Linked DNA regions of Homo sapiens. The protein of the gene in region 1 purifies or fractionates together with the protein of each later gene. This does not show direct contact. Each region holds a gene or a part of one and is shown in the gene's direction. Other genes may lie near its edges.

What was found. The genes of interacting proteins can lie anywhere in the genome.
Region 2: the proteins of EAPP (region 1) and GPATCH1 purify together in Homo sapiens (affinity purification with mass spectrometry; 3 studies listed by BioGRID and IntAct, with this or other methods). This does not show direct contact.
Region 3: the proteins of EAPP (region 1) and SMYD4 purify together in Homo sapiens (affinity purification with mass spectrometry, with the first as the bait; one large-scale study listed by BioGRID). This does not show direct contact.
Region 4: the proteins of EAPP (region 1) and DHX38 purify together in Homo sapiens (affinity purification with mass spectrometry, with the first as the bait; one large-scale study listed by BioGRID). This does not show direct contact.

Annotation. Positions count from the first base shown.
Region 1 is NC_000014.9:34,533,202-34,536,701, reverse strand, and holds part of EAPP (E2F-associated phosphoprotein), read left to right. Parts: intron 1-426; coding exon 427-608; intron 609-3,162; coding exon 3,163-3,258; intron 3,259-3,500. UniProt on the Homo sapiens protein: May play an important role in the fine-tuning of both major E2F1 activities, the regulation of the cell-cycle and the induction of apoptosis. Promotes S-phase entry, and inhibits p14(ARP) expression.
Region 2 is NC_000019.10:33,091,181-33,094,680, forward strand, and holds part of GPATCH1 (G patch domain-containing protein 1), read left to right. Parts: intron 1-2,178; coding exon 2,179-2,339; intron 2,340-2,991; coding exon 2,992-3,089; intron 3,090-3,500.
Region 3 is NC_000017.11:1,784,903-1,788,402, reverse strand, and holds part of SMYD4 (protein-lysine N-methyltransferase SMYD4), read left to right. Parts: intron 1-798; coding exon 799-981; intron 982-1,429; coding exon 1,430-1,593; intron 1,594-3,500. UniProt on the Homo sapiens protein: Protein-lysine N-methyltransferase. Monomethylates PRMT5, modulating its transcriptional activity. May also act as a histone methyltransferase. Plays a critical role in cardiac development.
Region 4 is NC_000016.10:72,107,347-72,110,846, forward strand, and holds part of DHX38 (pre-mRNA-splicing factor ATP-dependent RNA helicase PRP16), read left to right. Parts: coding exon 1-202; intron 203-298; coding exon 299-453; intron 454-880; coding exon 881-1,036; intron 1,037-1,126; coding exon 1,127-1,261; intron 1,262-1,453; coding exon 1,454-1,579; intron 1,580-2,068; coding exon 2,069-2,164; intron 2,165-3,500. UniProt on the Homo sapiens protein: Probable ATP-binding RNA helicase. Involved in pre-mRNA splicing as component of the spliceosome.

The DNA of each region.
Region 1 (3,500 bases):
AAACCATCCTGGGCAACATGGCGAAACCCCATTTCGACAAAAATTAAACAAAACAAAACAAAACAAAAAAACAGCTGGGAATGGTGGTATGTGCCTGTAGTTCCAGCTACTGGGGAACCCGAGGTGGGAGGATTGCTTGAACTGGGGAGGTGGAGGTTGCAGTGAGCTGAGATCATGCCACTGCACTCCAGGTTGGGTCACAGACTGAGATGCCATCTCAAAAAAAAAAAAAAAAAAAAAAAATTAAAGAAGATTGGAAATATGCAGAACTGGCTTATTAAGTGAGAATAGCTATATGTAATGTATAAGTACATCAAATGTAACCATGTAATACTTAAAATTGTTGTTGGACAGTGAGATGCTGGGAGTTTAAAATTATTTTAATTTTTAAATATTCATATTCTTTTTGATTTAAATGTATGCTAGCTCTGAGGATGAAGTGGATGTGCTTTTACATGGAACTCCTGACCAAAAACGAAAACTCATCAGAGAATGTCTTACCGGAGAAAGTGAATCATCTAGTGAAGATGAATTTGAAAAGGAGATGGAAGCTGAATTAAATTCTACCATGAAAACAATGGAGGACAAGTTATCCTCTCTGGGAACTGGTAAACTTTTGGTTCAATTTTATATATATTTTTGTAAGCTCTGTAAGGGCAGGAACCTTATTTGTGCTCTTCTATGTTCCCAGCACTTTCAGTAGGTGCTCAATAAATATTTATTGAATGAAGGAGTGAATGTATTTGGCAGTCTGAGCTAGAGTCTTCCTTTTCTCATTTAAAAAAGTTATTTATTTATTACTTTAGATTCAATGTCTCATTCTGTTACCCAGGCTGGAGTGCAGTGGCATGATCATAGCTCACTGTAGCCTAAAACTCCTGGGCTCAAATGATCTTCCCACCTCCGTTTCTTGAATAACTGAGATTACAGGCATGTACCACTGTGCCCAGATAATTAAAAAAAAAATTTGGGCCGGGCACGGTGGCTCACGACTGTAATCCTAGCACTTTGGGAGGCCGAGGCGGGCGGATCACGAGGTCAGGAGATTGAGACCATCCTGGCTAACACGGTGAAACCCTGTGTCTACTAAAAATACAAAAAATTAGCCGGGCGTGGTGGCAGGCGCCTGTAGTCCCAGCTACTCGGGAGGCTGAGGCAGGAGAATGGCATGAACCCAGGAGACGGAGCTTGCAGTGAGCTGAGATCACGCCACTGCACTCCAGCCTGAGCGACAGAGCGAGACTCCATCTAAAAAAAAAAAAAATCTGTAGCGACCGGGTGCAGTGGCTCACACCTGTAATCCTAGCACTTTGGGAGGCCGAGGTGGGTGGATCACCTGAGGTCAGGAGTTCGAGACCAGTCTGGCCACCATGGCGAAACCCCGTCTCTACTAAAAATACAAAAATTAGTTGGGTGTGGTGGCACGTGCCTGCAGTCCCAGCTACTTGGGAGGCCGAGGCAGGAGAATTGCTTGAACCCGGAAGGCGGAGGTTGCAGTGAGCTGAGATCGCGGCACTGCACCCCAGCCAGGGCAACAGAGTGAGACTCCGTCTCAAAAAAAAAAAAGGCCAGGCGTGGTGGCTCATGCTTGTAATCCCAGCACTTTGGGAGGCCGAGGCAGTGGATCACGAGGTCAGGAGTTTGAGACCAGCCTGGCCAATACAGTGAAACCCCATCTCTACTAAAAATACAAAAATTAGCTGGGCTTGGTGGCACGTGCCTGCAGTCCGAGCTACTCAGGAGGCCAGGCAGGAGAATCGCTTAAACCCGGGAGGCAGAGGTTGCAGTGAGCCGAGATTGTGCCATTGCACTCCAGCCTGGGTGACAGAGCTAGACTCCGTCTCAAAAAAAAAAAAAAAAATTTGTGGAGACAGGGTCTCACTATGTTGCCCAGGCTGGTCTTAAACTCCTGGCTCAAGTGATCTTCCTGCATTGGCCTCCCAAAGTGCTGGGATTATAGGTATAAACTATTGTGCCTGGCTTGGAGTTTGTTTGATGACTGTCTTGTGTTCTTGGAAAGAGATTAGTTAATACTGTTTACTTGCATAATTTTATTTTGCAGTTTTTACTCGAGTTAAAAAAAAAAGACACACAAACTTACAAAAGTATTTTTAGGGTTAGATGGCACTAAAATGTGGCAGATTTAATTATGTATCATCACAAATTTCTGTTTCACTTTAGTGAGTAATGAAACATAGTTCATTTTGATACTTGGTCTTTATGTAAAATGTACCTGACCTGAAAACTGGTTTGTGAAAGTAGGACTCTTCTGCCGGGTGCAGTGGCTCACGCCTGTAATCCCAGCACTTTGGGAGGCTGAGGTGGGTGGATCATGAGGTCAGGAGCTCAAGACCAGCCTGGCCAACATGGTGAAACCCTGTCTCTACTAAAAACACAAAAAATTAGCTGGGAGTGACGGCAGTTGCCTATAATTCCAGCTACTCGGGAAGGTCAGGCAGGGGAATCACCTGAACCCAGGTGGCAGAGGTTGCAGTGAGCCGAGATTGTGCTATTGCACTCCAGCCTGGGCAACAGAGTGAGACTCAGTCTCAAAAAAAAAAAAAAAGGAAGTAGGACTCTTCAGCATTGATTTCCACCCTGATATGCTATGTATTAGCTGGAAAAATCTGAAAGCATATAAAAATATAATAAAAACTAAAGCAGATGCTAACTAAGAGGAATTAGGGATATGGGCATATGATGACATAAGTATAGGTAATGTCATGGTCCTGGGCACAACTGAGGAGAAGAATGTGTCCTTGACTCATTCCTCCTGCCTTCCTATAGGGTTCTTACCCTTTTTCTCCTAATGTTTCTTAGAACAAAATGTTTGTTCTATGTTCTGCATGGTATACTGTATGACTGAAAGGTAGAGATATGTGTGCTGGCAACCTGAAAATATCGCTATTTTATTTAATGAGATTTGTGGGAAGGGAGAGAGAAGAATTTTCTCAAGATTTGGAACATTTTAAGGAGGGCCAGTTCTCTGTAACTGTATAGGGCATAGACATCGAGTAATTCACTGATGTGAAAATATTTCACCATCAAATGAGTTTGTGAATGAGTTGATATTGTTTTGAGGTGATGGAAGAATATATGGAGTTTTTTGCCTTGTGAATTATGTATGATTTAGTCTGTAAACTTTACTTCTGGTTTGAATAGGATCTTCCTCAGGAAATGGAAAAGTTGCAACAGCTCCGACAAGGTACTACGATGATATATATTTTGATTCTGATTCCGAGGATGAAGACAGAGCAGGTAAGTAACCTATTTACCAGGTTTAGCAGTTATATTTTATAAAAAAGGTTTACCTAACAATTATTAGATGTTAGGATTTCCCTCTGAGTTTGGTCTTTTAAGAAATTACAGCTAGGCATGGTGGCTCACACCTGTAATGGCAGCACTTTGGGAGGCTGATGCAGGCAGATCACCTGAGGTTGGGAGTTTAAGACCAGCCTGACCAACTTGGTGAAACCCCATCTGTACTAAAAATACAAAAA
Region 2 (3,500 bases), on another chromosome or scaffold:
ACAGGCGGATCACGAGGTCAGGAGATCAAGACCATCCTGGCTAACACGGTGAAACCCCGTCTCTACTAAACAAAATACAAAAAATTAGCCGGGTGTGGTGGCGGGTGCCTGTAGTCCCAGCTACTCGGGAGGCTGAGGCAGGAGAATGGCGTGAACCCAGGAGGCAGAGCTTGCAGTGAGCTGAGATTGCGCCACTGCACTCCAGCCTGGGCGACAGAGCAAGACTCCGTCTCAAAAAAAAAAAAAAAAAAAAAAAAAGTAAAGCCTCTATTGCCTCAAAAGCTCAGTATCCATGGTGCTGGGTCTGCAGCTTTCCACAGTAACTCTCAGGCACACTGCAGTAAAGAACTGTGAGTGACTGAACTAAAATTAAACTTCTGCTACCTTAAAACCTGGTCGCGGATTCACCCATGATAAAGATTAAATAGGGAGGGAGAGCATCAGGAAGAATAGCTAATGCATGCTGGGCTTAATACCTAGGTGATGGGTTGATCTGTGCAGCAAACCTCCATGACACACATTTACCTGTGTAACAAACCTGCACATCCTGCACATGTACCCTGGAACTTAAAAGTTGAAGGAAAAAAAAGATTAAATAAAACATTTATATCAGCATGTGCGAGGCTGCAGGTAAGAGGGAAGGAAGTCTCATTCTTTTTTTGAGTAGCATCATCTAGAAGGAAACATATCTCATGTAGCAAGAAGTCTAGATGTGCTGAGACCCCAGGCTCTCTCTTCTCAGTCTTCTGTTGGCAGCTTGTCCTTATACTACCTCTCCTCATGATTGCAAAATGGCTGTAGTAGTTCCAGGTGGCACATCCAGGATGACGTTGTTCAAGAGAACTTTCCTCTTGGTCCCTTTTCTTTTCTTTTTTTTTTTTCCTGAGACGGAGTTTTGCTCTGTTGCCCAGGCTGGAGTGCAGTGGCGCTATCTCGGCTCACTGCAACCTCTGCTTGCCAGGTTCAAGTGATTCTCCTGCCTCAGCTTCCCCCGAGTAGCTGGGATTACAGGCGTGTGCACCACCATGCCTGGCTAATTTTTGTATTTTTAGTAGAGACGGGGTTTCACCATATTGGCCAGGCTGGTCTCGGACTCCTGACCTCAGGTGATCCACCCACCTCGGCCTCCCAAAGTGCTGGGATTACAGGTGTGAGCCACCGCACCCGGCAGTCTCTTTTCTTAAAAGCAAAGTAGCCTTTCATATGAGTCCTACCATGAATTTTCTCTACATTTGCTTGCACAAATTGTTTTACATGCCCATTCCTAACGCAGTCCCTGGCAAGGAAAGTGGGATCAAAATGACTGGCTTAGATAAGACACAAAGCCCCACTTCATAATCCTGCCTCCCCAACACTGGGAGTACCACTCCTGCAATGTGTGGCGGTGCAGAGGAAGGCAGGTGCCTAGACAACGTCAGGACTCTGCAAGGAAAGAGGAAACGTGCCAATGGTTGGACAGGCAGCCAGCAACATCTGCTCCAGTAAAGGCAAAGGCACCTGACTCTAGGCCTGGCACTCACACTTGTGAATGCTTGCTGGCTGGAACTCCAGGCTTTGTCTCTTTCACGCTGACCTTTGAGATACTGTCGAGAAGAACACGGCCATTACTTCCTGTCTTCCCAGCTTGGTCATGCTCGGGGTGGCCCTAATGAGCAGCGACTATCATGCCCTGCCCTTGGCCACTGGCTTTACCTTGTGTGAGGATGAGGTTCTAAAGTCAGTGTGAGGCGGGGCACGGTGGCTCATGCCTGTAATCCCAGCACTTTGGGAGGCTGAGGCGGGTGGATCACCTGAGGTCAGGAGTTCGAGACCAGCCTGACCAACATAGTGAAACCCCATCTATACTAAAAACAAACAGCTAGCCAGGCATGGTGGTGTGTGCCTGTAATCCCAGCTACTTGGGAGGCTGAGGCAGGAGAATCACTTGAACCCGGGAGGCGGAGGTTGCAGTGAGCCCAGATTGCACCACTGCACTCCGGCCTGGGCAACAAGAGAGAAACTCTGTCTCAAAAAAATAAATAAATAAAAAATAAAGTCAGTGTGTATGTCTGTCACTCTGCTGATCCAGAACTAAATTTTGTAGTTTTAACTTTTTTTTTTTAACAGAAATAAAACTATGTGATGTATTGTGTATAGTCACTTTCCAAATAATGTAATTCTGTTTGAATTTTTTTGAAGGATCTTAGTGAATTTGGGATAGCACCTAAAGCGATTGTCACCACAGACGATTTTGCCTCCAAAACCAAAGACAGAATACGAGAAAAGGCTAGGCAGTTGGCCGCTGCTACTGCCCCTATTCCTGGAGCCACCCTCCTTGATGACCTCATAACGCCAGCAAAGTGAGCATTTCCTTCTGACTGTCATGATCTTAGCACCGGTGTTTTGCATATGTGTGATTCTCTTGCTGAGGGATAGTTTGATTGCAAGTGAGACAAGCCTTCTTAGGCTCAAAGTCTAAGTGAAAAAGGGGGTTTTGCGTAAAGGATCTTGCACTGTCATTGCACGGAGAGATTAAGAACTCCAGCCACTAGCTGTGCTGCTGGGGCTCTCAGAGGCTGGAGAGCTGTTAGGAATTACAGTGACTTCTCCCACCACCCCTCCAGACCTTATAGCCTCGCCTCTGTCTGCCTCCTTCTACCCTCACTTTCTGTGTATCTCCTTGTGCTCCTGGGCTTGTGGCCTGATATGGCAGCCTTAGACCTTCAGGGATTCCCAGGCCACATGCTTAGCAAAGACTGTCTAGAGTCCCTGTGATCCCATCGTAAAGGCCCAGGAGAAAGGTCATCTGATTGACTTCCCCAGTTCAGGTGTGCACCCCAGTGCAGCCTGCTGTGGCTGGAATGGCAGGGTCACGCCAGATGTAATGTGGGTGAGGGCAAGGGCCCAGGCAAGACAGGCCTAGGAACTGAGCAGGAACTCAGAAGCCGCTTATTTCATATTCTTTGTTAATGTTATTTTGAAAAGTTCATTTTCAATGCCTTGCTATCCTAGATTATCTGTTGGTTTCGAATTGCTAAGAAAAATGGGTTGGAAAGAAGGACAAGGAGTTGGTCCTCGAGTAAAGAGACGGCCACGCCGACAGAAACCTGGTGTGTATGTTAATTGATTAACTGTTATCACTGCTGCAGCGTACTTTTTTTTTTTTTTTGAGACAGGGTCTTGCTCTGTCGCCCAGGCTGGAGTGCAGTGGTGCGATCCCGGCATACTGCAGCCTTGACCTCCCGGGCTCAAGTGATCCTTCCACGTTAGCCCCGCAAGTAGCTGGGACCACAGGCATGTGCCACTGCGCCAGGCTAATTTTTTGTATTTTTTGTAGAGACGGGGTTTTGCCATGTTGCCCAGGCCCAGGCTGAGGATTGCCTGAGCAAATTCCAATAAACGAAATAGCTGGGCCCAGTGGTATGTGTGTCTTCTAAGGCTTTTTATGTGTAATGCATGACAGCTTCCAGAAAGGCTGTGCTAGTTTATGCTTCTGCCAGCAGCATGTGAGAGTTCATGTT
Region 3 (3,500 bases), on another chromosome or scaffold:
TAAATGTTACAATTAGAGTAAAACTTTTTTTAAATTTTTATTTATTTTTCTTCAGACAGGGCCTGCTCTGTCACCCAGGCTGGAGTGCAGTGGTGCAATCCTGGCTCACTGCAGCCTCGCTCTCTAGGGCTCAACTGATCCTCCCACCTCAGCCTCCTGAGTAGCTGGGACTACAGGTGTGCACCACCACAGCTGGCTAATATTTTAATTTTTTTTTTTTAGAGACCAAATCTAGCTGTGTTGTCCAGGCTGGCCTTGAACTCCTGGGCTCAAGCAATTCTTCTGCGTGAGCCTCGGGATTTCAGGCAGGAGCCCTGGTGCCTGGCCTGCTTAAATATATAAAGTTTGGGGTAGTAACTAGGTCGCTTGTTCTGTTAACCAACCAAAGACCAGATAAACAAAAGCCCTTGGGCTCTAAAAGTCTTTGGGAAGTCACCTCAACAGGGGCTCTGGTTTCTATGTGAGAACATTATGAAACTATCTAGAACGCTCCCTACTTATCATCCCTTTTTTATTACTTCTTTATAAGTTCTTATCTTTGGCTATTTCGTGGTGTAGAGACACAGTCGTTAGGTTCCAGGACTCCAGTGGACTTTGTGTGCGTTCATCCACTTTGCTTCCTGGGGACTGGAGCTTGCCGTGAGTCATGTCCCATCTGATTTATATTGGATCTGGCTGTGGAGCCATGACTCACACGGGCTGCAGGCCTAGCTGCCCAGCTCATCTTCTGAGGAACAGAGGGCAAGGCCAGGGCTCATGTGCTGACACCTTTTTCCTTCTTTCCTCTTGCCCTTTCAGGACCTAAAGGGAGCATCGTTACCGACAGCAGGCAGGTGCGCCTTGCCACAGGCATCTTCCCTGTTATCAGCCTCCTGAACCACTCCTGTAGCCCCAACACCAGCGTGTCCTTCATTAGCACTGTCGCCACCATCCGGGCGTCACAGCGGATTAGAAAGGGGCAAGAGATTCTCCACTGCTATGGTGAGCCATCCCTCCGCACTGCCATCCTGCCCTTCTCCAACAGAAAAGGACGGGGACGCAAGTCAGCAAGCCACCAGGCATGTGACTTCACCTGTCTACTGTCTGCTTCCTGGAAGAGGCAGTGAACACTTAGGCCAAAAACAAGGAAGGGAGGATGGAAGGAATGGCCTTCGTGCTAGGGCCCTATTGCGGCTAAACTATGTCTCGCTGTTTAATCACTATAAACTTCCTATTCTGAAAATGGGCTAGGAACAACTTCTTGGCTTCTCTTTCTTCCTGTCTCAGCAACTTGGAAGCTTATTTTAGTATCCAGTTCCACAAATATTTGGGTAAAGGTTAGCTGTCACATGATAGGTAATTGTCCAGACCCTCTGCTAAGCTGAAGGTTTTTACGTAGTGTTTGACTCTCTCTTGCTTTCAATATTGGCTGACGGTGATCTCCCTCCAGGGCCTCACAAGAGCCGGATGGGGGTTGCCGAAAGGCAGCAGAAGCTGAGGTCTCAGTATTTCTTTGACTGCGCCTGTCCAGCTTGTCAAACTGAGGCACACAGGATGGCTGCAGGGCCCAGGTGGGAAGCATTCTGTTGCAACAGTTGCGGAGCGCCCATGCAGGTAATTCTCTCTTCTGTCTCCTCCACTTTTCCTGGAGGTCAGTTTTCCACCCCAAGGGTGATCAGTGTTTAGGAGGAAGCCATCAGGGACTTGTAAGTGCTGAGACCAGTAATATCACCTCCATTTTAGCCAGTCATCCCCATACACTAGTTCCCCTCCAGAGAAACCACAGGGAAAGGTTCAATTTAGTAATGTTTCCTTTATAAAGGACAGAAGATCCCATCTGAACTGGTTTGGGATCTGGGGGAGACTGGGAATTTATTTGCTGAAGTCAGTCATTGAAAAGTCCCAGGATAGGCTGGGCACAGTGACACATGCCTATTATCCCAGCACTTTGGGAGGCTGAGGTGGACAGATCACTTGGAGGCCAGGGGTTCAAGACCAGCCTGGGCAACATAGCAAGACCCTGTCTCTACCAAAAAAAATGTTATGAGAAAAATTCCAGGATAAGGCTGCTTAAGATACAGCTTGATCCAGGGGCTTTCTGTCCACCCCTCTCAGCTTCATTTTCTCTGTGTTAGCCCATCCTCAGATAGACTTCCCTCTTACGATGCAGGATGGCTGCCAGCAGCCCAGCCTGCGGATTTCCTGCCAAGGAGGATAAGAGCACATGCCACTCAAACAGCAGCCTGGGCAGAGATGTTACTGTGTTTCATTGACCTGAGAACTGTGGCTGGAGGAAAATTAGACATAGTTTTCCTCCAGCCATTTGGGCCAGAGGAAGGAGCCATATGTGAGCCACATGCCACACCCTCAGCTGTAGGGCAAGGGCCATGGGACTGAGGGTGAGAGGGATCCTTATGAGAAACTGGGTTGGGTTGCTGTTGCCAAATGAGAAAATAGATATCGGCCTTTGAAACACAGCAGATGTCCACCTCGGAGGTTTCCCCTCTGCCACAAGTGCCGTATTCTTCTTAGGGGAGTCATGAGTGAAAGGCAGAGCCGGTTGTGTTAGAAAGCTAAACTTGGAGACCCAAGGTCAAATGTAGGACGATCGCACCTAGCACCTTTTTCTATTAGTTTTTTTTTTTTTCTTTTTTTTTTTTGAGATGGGGTCTTGCCCTGTCATCCAGGCTGAAGTGAGTGCAGTGGCACGATCTCTGCTTACCACAGCCTCAACCTCCCAGACTCAAGCAATTCTCCTGCCTCAGCCTCCCCAGTAGCTGGGATTACAGGCATGCACCACCATGCCCAGCTAATCTTTGTATTTTTAGTAGAGACGAGTTGGCCATGTTCTCCATGTTGGCCAGGCTGGTCTCGATCTCCTGGCCTCAAGCGACCTACCTGCCTCGACCACCCAAAGCGCTGGGATTACAGGCGTGAGCCACCACGCCCAGCCTTTCTATTGGTTTTCTTTTTTTTTTTTTTTTCTTTTTCTTTTGTGAGACAGAGTCTCTCTCATGTCACCCAGGCTGGAGTGCAGTGGTGCAATCTCGGCTCACTGCAAGCTCCACCTCCCGGGTTCACGCCATTCTCCTGCCTCAGCCTCCCGAGTAGGTGAGACTACAGGCGCCCGCCACCACCATGCCCGGCTAATTTTTTGTATTTTTAGTAGAGACGGGGTTTCACCGTGTTAGCCAGGATGGTCTCGATCTCCTGACCTCATGGATCCACCCGCCTCGCCCTCCCAAAGTGCTGGGATTACAGGCGTGAGCCACCGCACCTGGCCTTCTATTGGTTTTCTGAGGACTTTTTCATAACTACTAGAAATGTTTGTCATCAAGGCCGGGCACGGTGGCTCACGCCTGTAATCCCAGCACTTTGGGAGGCTGAGGCGAGCGGATCATGAGGTCAGAAAATCGAGACCATCCTGGCTTACACGGTGAAACCCCGTCTCTACTAAAAAAAAAAAATAAATAACACACACAAAAATTTAGCCGGGCTTGGTGGTGGGCACCTGTAGTCCC
Region 4 (3,500 bases), on another chromosome or scaffold:
ACCCAGAGCGCCTACAAGAATGAGCTCCTGACCACCACAGTGCCCGAGATCCAGAGGACTAACCTGGCCAACGTGGTGCTGCTGCTCAAGTCCCTCGGGGTGCAGGACCTGCTGCAGTTCCACTTCATGGACCCGCCCCCGGAGGACAACATGCTCAACTCTATGTATCAGCTCTGGATCCTCGGGGCCCTGGACAACACAGGTGAGGCGGCCCCGGGAGCCTCATGGGTGCTGGCGCTTGACTTCCTTCTTTCCTCTACTGTCCCGTCAAATATCCGGGTTTGCTCATCTCTCCTAGGTGGTCTGACCTCTACCGGGCGGCTGATGGTGGAGTTCCCGCTGGACCCTGCCCTGTCCAAGATGCTCATCGTGTCCTGTGACATGGGCTGCAGCTCCGAGATCCTGCTCATCGTTTCCATGCTCTCGGTCCCAGCCATCTTCTACAGGCCCAAGGTGGGGCAGCGGCTGGCTCCCCTCTCCCCGGAGGGCTCGAGGAAGTGTTGGGGAGGGGAATGGCTTCTCTCTGTATTACTGAAATGGAACAGAGGGCAGAATCAGAGTTTCTGAAGAATGATTTTGCTGTTCTCGGTTAAGCAGGTTGGGGTAGGGGAAAGGAAGGGCTGGGCCAGTGGTTCTCAGGGAATGCTTTGGAAATTTGCAAGAGCATTTTTTATCTTCTAGTATGGTTGCTCTTGAGCCCTCATGTTTTAGAGTAGACCTTTTTAAAAATTATTTTAATTTTTCTCAAATTGTCAGGGCAACCTATTGACATGTTTGAAGTTCTATGTGTGGGTAGGTGGTAGTGTTAGAACCTCTGGGATGTGCTCAGTGGGCCTGGACCCCCCTGTACTTAGAGTGAAGGTTCTTTTTCCCTTCCTAGGGTCGAGAGGAGGAGAGTGATCAAATCCGGGAGAAGTTCGCTGTTCCTGAGAGCGATCATTTGACCTACCTGAATGTTTACCTGCAGTGGAAGAACAATAATTACTCCACCATCTGGTGTAACGATCATTTCATCCATGCTAAGGCCATGCGGAAGGTAGAGTGGTGGATGAGCAGGATGTTGGGATGAGGGGAGGGTCGAGAGGAAAGGAGGGCTCCCTCCTGGTGCCTCCGTCTCCTGCCCTAGGTCCGGGAGGTGCGAGCTCAACTCAAGGACATCATGGTGCAGCAGCGGATGAGCCTGGCCTCGTGTGGCACTGACTGGGACATCGTCAGGAAGTGCATCTGTGCTGCCTATTTCCACCAAGCAGCCAAGCTCAAGGTGAACCCAGGAGCCCAGTGAGCCCCTCCCAGCCTGATACCTGTATAAGGGCAAAGTTCTTCCTTTGTCCTGGTGTGGTTCTGCAGATCTGGGCTTCCGCCAAAGGCTGTGTCAAGAGTGTTAAGGGATGGGGTCGCTGCCCAAATGGGTGTTGTTTTCCTGATGTGGCTGCCTGTTGTGTCTCCTCCCTAGGGAATCGGGGAGTACGTGAACATCCGCACAGGGATGCCCTGCCACTTGCACCCCACCAGCTCCCTTTTTGGAATGGGCTACACCCCAGATTACATAGTGTATCACGAGTTGGTCATGACCACCAAGGTGAGTCTTTTCCAAGGCACTTGCATAATGCAGGCCCCCTGTCTGGCCAGGCTTTGAAACCCTTCACTGCGTTCTGGCATGAGCTTTTAGCCTGGGAGCCTTGAGGCCACATGCATTGTTTTGCGGGGCATGTGAGGTTGGTTTTCATTTGGGGACTTGGGGAAGCTCTGCACAGGGTTGACCTCTAGACTGCATTGACCTCAGCTGCATGGGCACGATTGTTCCCCACTTGCTGCTTGGGATGAGCAACCCCTCTTGGTGTCATTAGAAGGATTTTCGGAGGGGTTGGGCCTTTTCTTTTAGATACTGGGGGCATTTTCTCAAGTGTGGAGGAGTTTGGATGGGAGTATCTGGGGTTTTTCCTTTCCTTTTTTCAGCCTTGCAGGGCCAGGGATTGGGCCCTTCCCATGTGGCTCCTAATTGTGGAACCACTCTGGGAGGGACATTGGCCCTCCTGTGACCCTCGCCTCCCTGCCCTTCTGCCCGCAGGAGTATATGCAGTGTGTGACCGCTGTGGACGGGGAGTGGCTGGCGGAGCTGGGCCCCATGTTCTATAGCGTGAAACAGGCGGGCAAGTCACGGCAGGTGAGGATTCTGTGCTCTTCGCAGGGGTGCTGTTTGCCTGTGGGGTCGGTGTTCCCTCCGCTTGGTATTGAAGACTTGCGGTCATCCAACCCACTTACTTCTCTCTGCAAACATAAAGGCTGTGATCCAGCAGGCTGGGTCTGTCTGATTCCCCACCACCCACTCCAGTTGTTTGGTAGGCTGAGCCTTTAAAAACAAAACCAAAAAACTCATTATTGAAAAGTCCAAATATTCATGAAAGTGGGAAAAACAGTACAACAGGCCACCATGAATTCGTTGCCTTGCCTCTATAATTGTCAACGTTTGTTCAATTTCACTATTCCTACCCCACTCCACACACATCCATTTTTTTTTTCTGGAATATTTTAAAGCTTATCTCATACATTATTCATCCATAAATACTTGAGTATGTGTCTCTGACTAAAAGGACTTAAAATTTTAAATATAACCTCTGTGCCGTTATCACTCATAAAAAAATGAATACTTAATGTCACCTAAGTCTCCAGTCCGCATTTGGATTTCTCCATTTATCTCAAAGATAACTTCTTATGATCGATTTGCTTGAATTAGGATCCAGGCATTGCAACTGCTTATGTGTGTTAACTGTTTCATTCTAGAACAGGCTCCACCCCACGCTTTTTTTCATGACATTGATTTATTGGAGCAGCCAGGTCATTTGTCCTGTCGAATAGTCCATATGATGTATTTGCCTCATTGCTTGCTCACAGCGGTGTTTAACCTGTGCCTGTGTTTCGTGCACTTGCTGTAAGCTGGCGATGAGTCCAACCGCTCAATTAGATCCCGGCTGAGCTGCGTGTGGCAGAGATGCCTGCATGTGGCACTGTGAACCTCCTCTTAGATGCCTTCAGGAGGCATGTGAGGTCTGGTGGCCCCACCTTTGCTGATGGGAGGATGGATGAGGGGCCCCAGTGGTGGCAGCCTGCCTCTTCCCTGATAGGTTTCCACTGCTCCTCCATCTTGAGGTTTTAGCGTCTGTTGATGGCCATTGCCTAGATCCATATTTAGGGTTGCAAAATGGTGCTGGGCTTTGGCTTACCCCTTTTCGTAGCATAATTCTCCCCATACCAGGCTCCCTTGCATCTTATGCCTGTCTCTTCCAGCCAGCAGGTAATCACATCTTCCCTGTTTTTCTGTACTTCCTAGCATAGTTGTGAACTTGATTTTTCAAAAAAGAAGGAAATGTAAGTACTTCCTGGACTGAGGGATGACTGAGTTAGGACTGATTGTCCAGTGTCTTGAGTCAGTGAAAAAAGCAGGCCTCAGCTGCAGAAGAGAAGGCGGCTTTGGTACTGGGGCAGGCAGCCATGTGGAGCAC